Regions from separate parts of the Homo sapiens genome. Here region 1 is reported to be linked to region 2. Evidence: microRNA targets listed by miRTarBase, many of them from high-throughput screens and not tested one by one. Region 2 holds a microRNA gene; the other region holds the end of a gene's coding sequence.

Region 1 (3,000 bases), not on the chromosome of region 2:
TTCTTTCTTAAGGTCAGCCACACCCTTAGAAAAATTACCAATGAAAGTTGAAAAATTGCTCCCTTAATTGTAGCATTAGTTCAAGAATTTTTTTGAAAGAATAGTGCCATATGTATTAAAGAGATTTTTGAGGAACAAAAAAACACAGTCAAAAATTTGAGGGCAATATACTACTACTGATTTTACTCTAGAAATGAACCAAATTATTTTTAGTTGCTGTAGAGGTACTCCACTAAATCTGTAAACATGTTTTTTTGTTTTGTTTTGTTTTTTGCGTCTGCAGCGCAAATCCAGAAAAACCCTGTGCATCATCATTCTTATCCTTGTCATTGGAGTTGCGATTATCAGTCTCATCATATGGGGATTGAACCACTGAAGTTATAAAGGAGCACACTGTCGCACTACATTGTCTAAATTATGTAGGAAGATTCCTGTAATCATGTTTTTTTAATTATTATTTTAAAGCTATTGTATAAAGGATGGTTCCCATACTTTGTTATTTTTATTGGGGGGGTTGGGGTGGTTCCTTTGGATTAAATCTGATATTTTCTAATACTGAAAGATTTTCTAAATGTCACTGCTGACATAACTCCCTTGGTCTTCAATTTAATAGTTGTTAAGTTTTTGCCCACATTGCATATGCCTTTCATTTATAATTTATTTACCCTGCTTGACTTAGTTTTGGGAATTCGTAAATTTAAAGGTGTGTGTATTCTGTTTGCATCTCCCTGTCACTGTGACACACCTAGATGTGTGTTACTTCAATTAAAATTCTCAAATTTAATTTTGATTTGCTTCAGCAGGGAAAATATTCTCAATAATGTAAAATAATTAAGGTCTATACATGGGTTGTATTTTTCTGGTTCACAACAGCACAAAGTGTCTTTCATTTTTTTGTTGGTTTTCTTTTAAGATCTTTTTTACCCTGAAGTCGGTGAATACTTTTCTAGTTTATTTGATACTCTTTCTGTGTATATATTAAGCTTTTGCTGTAGATTGCCTAGTAAAATTACTAAGGATAGGTTGTTTTTACATATGGTCTATTTAAGTCTGATGTTTACGGGGGAAAGTGTAGTTACTAAAAATGTTTAACATAATTTGGAAGAAGAGTATGAACAACCAATACCAATACCTATTGCGTTTGGATTCTTAAGACCCCAGTTTGTTATTCCACTAAACTAGTTATCTTAACCATATCATCTGGTTTTGTGGGCCATTATTTACCTTCCCTTATGTCTTATAGAATAATGGTTAATATTTTTAGGTCAAAATTACTTTTGGAAAGTAACTTTCCCACAATTAACTGTTTTTGAGCACCTGACAAAATTTAGTGTTTACCTTGCGTGCCATTTTGTGTCATCCTTCATTAAAAAAGCAATTGGAGGTTTGCCAGTTATCTCACTTCCCTTTTTAAATCAATGTTGTTTTAATGCACTAATCTGAATTCTGTAAAGAGGATTATCTTAGTTTATACTTTGTATTTTATAATGTTCTTGTATAGCAGCTCGGTACTGAAGGCGGTGTTTAACTTGGCAAGCTCTGAGACTTCAAATGGGAACAAATAGTAAGTAGCTAAGTAAACCACATCTTTGCAACCAAAATAAAGATGAGTTAAAAGGTATCTGGTTAGGCCTATTTCATGAGGACTATGCTCTGGTGGGACCACAGGTCACCTGATACTTAGTGCTGTGCTGCCTGAAACCTCAGCATGGAGACATCACCACATGCACTGTGGCCATTCAGCATCTTTCTGGAGCACCAGTTCACTCCAGGTTTTTATTTTAGGGTGTCATCGATTTTACCTACTTTGTCAGACTGGTAGAAGTTGCTTTGCATATCAGAAAAACTCCATTTTTTTCCACAAAAGGGATTACAGAAAACTCTTTTGTGAGTGAGTGATTGGAACTTAGAGACTCCTGTTGCCAGAATCAGACTGCCCTAGAACAGAATGGACAATGCAGGGAGGAGAATTCACACAAACAGCACCTGTTCTGAGGCCTGTGCCAGCCCACCAGGCCTGCTCAAATGTGGTCTTTACTTCAAGTGCACAGAGGCACATGAGGTTTCTGGTGATAAACCAGCGTCTTACCGCTGTTTTAAAGTCCCATCCCCATGGCTTTCACAATCAGTTCCGTTTTTTTTGCTGTACTTGATAAAATGTTTATTCTCATACAGGTCAAGTACATTTACTTCTATTCACAGTGAGTACCCAATAACAACAAAAGCGCTTACAAATTTGGGGGGCGTGATTTTAGTACCTTTATTTGAAGTGTAATCATTTTAAATTATTATTATTTTAACTGGGGCAGTTATCAGTGGTTTAAACAGGAACTTTAGTGGCTTCAATTTGTTTAAGAAACATATTAAGTTTGAGGGAAAAATTTCCCATGAAATATTTGGAACGTAAGAGTAGTATTGATTAGAGAAAATTAAATAAGAAACATAGTATGGTAGCCAAATTTTTTAAAAAATCTTGAACTTTTCTGTAGGTCAGTTTTAGAACTGCTGTGAAAAGTGAAGGTTGCCCTGTGGAGATTAAAATTAGAGTTGTTTTCATAACTGACAGCATGGTGAATCCATTTGAGTCAAAGTGAAGAATTTCCTCATCAAGTGACTATACATTTGTTTTTGTGTGCTCAAAAGAAATACTCAAACACAGACTGATATTAACCAGCCAGGTAAATTGAACGACAATGTGGCATTAGGTATTTGGCTGTTTATTGGTCGTTAAATACTATGGTTTTGCAATATGATTGATGGTAAAAGAGTGATGTCATATTGATACTAGAGTAGCTTGTTTTTTTAGTAGGTGTGGGACCATCTCTTTTACAAGTGCAACTCAGTCTAGGACAGCCATGGATGCAGTGTCTGGAGTTGGACCCTCTGAGCCCGCTGGCTGCCCCAGTAGCATCTGCATTGGTGACCAAGGACACTGCACTTTGAAGAGGTCGCCACTGGGTTATTTAGTGTCTTCACTGCTTTTGTTAAAAATTGTAAAAT
Region 2 (3,529 bases):
GAGTCTGCGCTCTTGATACTGAAAAAGTGGATGACCCTGTACGATTCGACATGAGCAAAACGAACAGGACAGGGATAACCACTCTCCAAGTACCAAAGGTTAGCACGGAAAAGAAAGCCACTGCCTTGGGTGGACTTGGTACGTCTTCAAGGCGCGGTCCTGGGGATGAATTAGATGCTGAGGGTTAGTGGACCGGGTCACATACCCCAAGCAGAACATGCACACTCACGGACCGAGTAACAGCAGGGACCACAAAGCCACTACCCCACACGAGCGCCACCCCAGCCATCGGCCCGGGCTGATGACTTCCCGCTCAGGAAGCAGGGACCCAGACCACACACATCGTGCATGCTTTTGGCCCCGCCCACACTGCACCAGGAGAGGGGATGTCCCAGAGGCCACTGCCTTCCCTAAAGTCATCCAGGTGCCCGTGAAGTCCTCTCTGTGAAGTGGGGACCCGTGAACGATTTGCCACACACAAAACGGATACACACGGTCATGCACACACATACCGCATCCCTTGCTGAGTGTGGACTGGGTCCAAGACAAGGTTTGATACTCACAGAGAGCTTGCCCTTGTATATTCCATGTCAATAAACCGAATATACAAAGGGCAACCTCGCTTTAAGTACCAAACAATAGCACTGGGCAGGTTCCTCACTATCATTCACGGGGCCGGCCTCCTCTCCCGGGGTTCATCCTGGCGGGGGAGGGGGTGGGAGATGCGGGATCAGCAGACCAGGTGGCAAACACCACCTGCCAGCTGTGTGCCCATAGGTCAGCTCTCCATCCCAAAGGGGCCAGGAAGGGGCAGACGCCAGTGCCCCTTCACCAGAATCAGCCTCTTTTCCAGGCATCACTCCAGATTAGAACTTGTTCCTGAAAAGGAGATCCACCCCACGGGCCTTCCTGGGCACACGCAGAGCTCAGCTTCTCACTTTCTATAGGAATTCCCTGGGGTGGGACCACCATCTCCTTCCCAGTGTGGGCACCTCTCCAGGAAGTTTTCCTAAGGATGCACTCAGCACCGAGGTCCCAGGCACTGGATGAATTTACACCTTAGACAAAGCAAAGGCCCTGTGGTCACCATCCCTTCATCCATCTCACAGAGCCGTTGACACCAGTGTCATTCTCCATGCCAGCCCTTGCCCCACCCCTGCCAGAGGCTGGCATCGTGGCCATGAAGCCATGCTAAGAAAGAGCACAGGGTCAACAGTAGTAAACCCCACGTACCCCCAAGTAACTGAGGAAGCAGACCCACAGCCCATTCCCCACAGTGGTCTCTCCTTCAAGAAGGGGAGAGGAGCGGGAGCCGCCTGGTCCAGGTGGCAGGTTATGTGACTCATTACCCAGGCGTGGTGCTCACCTCTCTTCAGCTGGACGTTCGCTTTCCTTGGGCTGAGGATGCTGCGAATGTCCTTCCTGAAGCTGGCTTCGGGTCCAGATGACCCCCATGGCAGTCGGGGTGTAAAAAGCCGGCAGTCACACGGCCCAAGGAGTGTCTCCACAAACACAGAACAAGAGTCCCATTCTCAGGCAGCCATCCTAGGTGTGAGCAGAAAGCCAGCAGTCAGAGACGGGGCACAGACATCGAGGCAGAAGCAGGCGCCCTCTGACCTCCCACATGCACGCACCTGGTGCGGGGCTGACAGCTCCCACGGCTCATCCCCAGCGCTGCCTTCATGGGCAATCACAAATGACAAATAGAAGCAAACCATTCTTACAGATTCAGCCTGGGGACTGCGAGCTGGATCATGAACACCCAAGCATCAAAAAAAAAAAGCGCTGATGAGCACACCTCAGCCCCTTCCCCAAGGTCAATACCACCTCCAGGAAGCCCTCCTGGGGCTGGCCTACCAGGCTCGAAAACAGCATAGACAGAGCCAGTGCTCCGTGGTCCACCATCACTGCTGTCTGTGTTCCCCTTGAAATGATCCAACATCCAGGTCCCCCTTCTAAGGCTGATGCTGGGAACAGGAAGCCTTCTGTGTATGACTTGGTACCAAGAAGAGGCAGATCAATGTGTGATTTATCCTTAAAAAAGCAAACCACCATTAAACTTGGAGCACACAAAAAGGTCCCTCCTCTCCCACTGCTTCCAGGGAGTCCACAGGAAGAACCAGCATAGAGGGCGAAGGCAGAACCCAGGGGCAGCGTCACAGCCAACCTCACGTTCCCGGACATGGAAGCCAGGCCATACCTGAGAGGGGCTGACATCCGAGGCTTTGTCCTGGAGACAAGCAGGGTATGAGTGTCTTCTCCGACAGTTTGATACGCAAATGAGAGTCTCCCCCTGTATATTCGCCATTAATCAAGTGAACATACAAAGGGTATCCTCTCTTTAAGTACCAAAGGGTGGCTCAAAGAGCAGGTGAGGACCATGCCGGGTCTTTGCCGGAGTGGACATCTCCTCCTGCGAGGCCTGAGACCAAGGGGGAGGGGCCCGGTGACAAGCCTCATCTGGCTGACCCTGGAGCTGGGCCTGCACCTTGCACATTGTGGCCTGGCCCCGAAAGGTGGCACATCCAGGACTCCCTGCAGGCGAGACTGGCTTCTAAACAAGGGAACAGGTAGGCATGACTATCAGTGTGCTCAGCATGCATGGGTGAACCTGCTTCAAATACCCACAAGCTACATGGACAATGGAACCATCACCTTTCTCCAAAGGGGCACAGGGTGTGAGGGCTCAGCCCGGCAAGACATGGAGTTATCAGAGAAGAAGGCATCTGCAGGCATTCTCAGAGCTGGAGAGCGCTGAGACAATGTCTCTCCTCTGAGGCTGGTTGTCCTAGAGATGACCAGATCCAAGAATGTGTCACCTGTACCTACCTCGAAACAAACAAAAAGAGGGCCCCAGCGTCAGACTCTAGCGACAAAGGAGTCCTGAAGACCAGACACACCTGCCCAAGGCACACTCAGGTGCAATCACTGGACAATGTGCTCCGAGGACTGGCCATTGGAGTCCAGCGACAGTCCCAGAGGGCACAGGCAGGCTCAGGGAGCTCCACCAGTAACTTGCCTTAGAACAACCTGACATCCATGTGCTTCCCTCAAGGCTGACACTCTCTCAAGGATGGAGACCACCAGGGAGTGGCAGGTCAGGGGAGTAGCAGGTGAGAAGCAGCATCAGCTCTGCGCTCCACCATCCACCACCCATTCGTGTGTCCGGAGAGGTGCGAGGTTAGTGCTGGACGCAGGAAGCCCTCTGGGTATGACTTGGTATGGAGAAGAGGCAGATCCATGTGATTTATCCTTAAAAAAAGCAAACCACCATTAAACTCAGTGCACACAAAAAGGACCCTCCTCTCCCACTGCCTCCAGGGAGTCCACAGGAAGAACCAGCACAGAGAGCGAAGGCAGAACCCAAGGGCTAGGATCACAGCCAAGCTCACGTTCCCAGACAGGGAAGCCAAGCCGTACCTGAGAGGGGCTGACATCCGAGGCTTTGTCCTGGAGACAGCAGGGTCTGAGCGTCTTCCTCGACAGAGTTTGATACGCAAATAAGAGTCTCCCCCTGTATATTCGCCAT

The links. The annotated mature microRNA hsa-miR-1185-2-3p reads AUAUACAGGGGGAGACUCUCAU and lies in region 2 at 2,280-2,301, opposite strand. An mRNA with a match to its seed (bases 2 to 7 or 8) in the 3' UTR can be bound and repressed. Matches are read on the target gene's strand: a 7mer-m8 pairs with bases 2 to 8, a 7mer-A1 pairs with bases 2 to 7 and ends in A, and an 8mer does both.
Region 1: the mRNA of STX7 is a reported target of hsa-miR-1185-2-3p. Seed matches in the 3' UTR shown: 7mer-A1 at 470-476.

Annotation. Positions count from the first base shown.
Region 1 is chr6:132,458,134-132,461,133 of GRCh38, reverse strand. It overlaps STX7 (syntaxin 7), which reads left to right. Exons shown (of 10, transcript NM_003569.3): 10 at 284-3,000. The coding sequence ends at 376. Among named protein-coding and RNA genes, the nearest start is that of STX7, 53 kb to the left of the region's middle.
Region 2 is chr14:101,043,022-101,046,550 of GRCh38, reverse strand. MIR1185-2 (microRNA 1185-2) reads right to left here and starts at 2,353; the gene lies at 2,268-2,353. It overlaps MIR381HG (MIR381 host gene), which reads right to left and starts at 1,394. Exons shown (of 3, transcript NR_104192.1): 1 at 1,367-1,394. It overlaps MIR381 (microRNA 381), which reads right to left and starts at 631; the gene lies at 557-631. MIR1185-1 (microRNA 1185-1) reads right to left here; the gene lies at 3,489-3,529. It also overlaps MIR487B. RefSeq lists enhancers at 1-285, 286-786.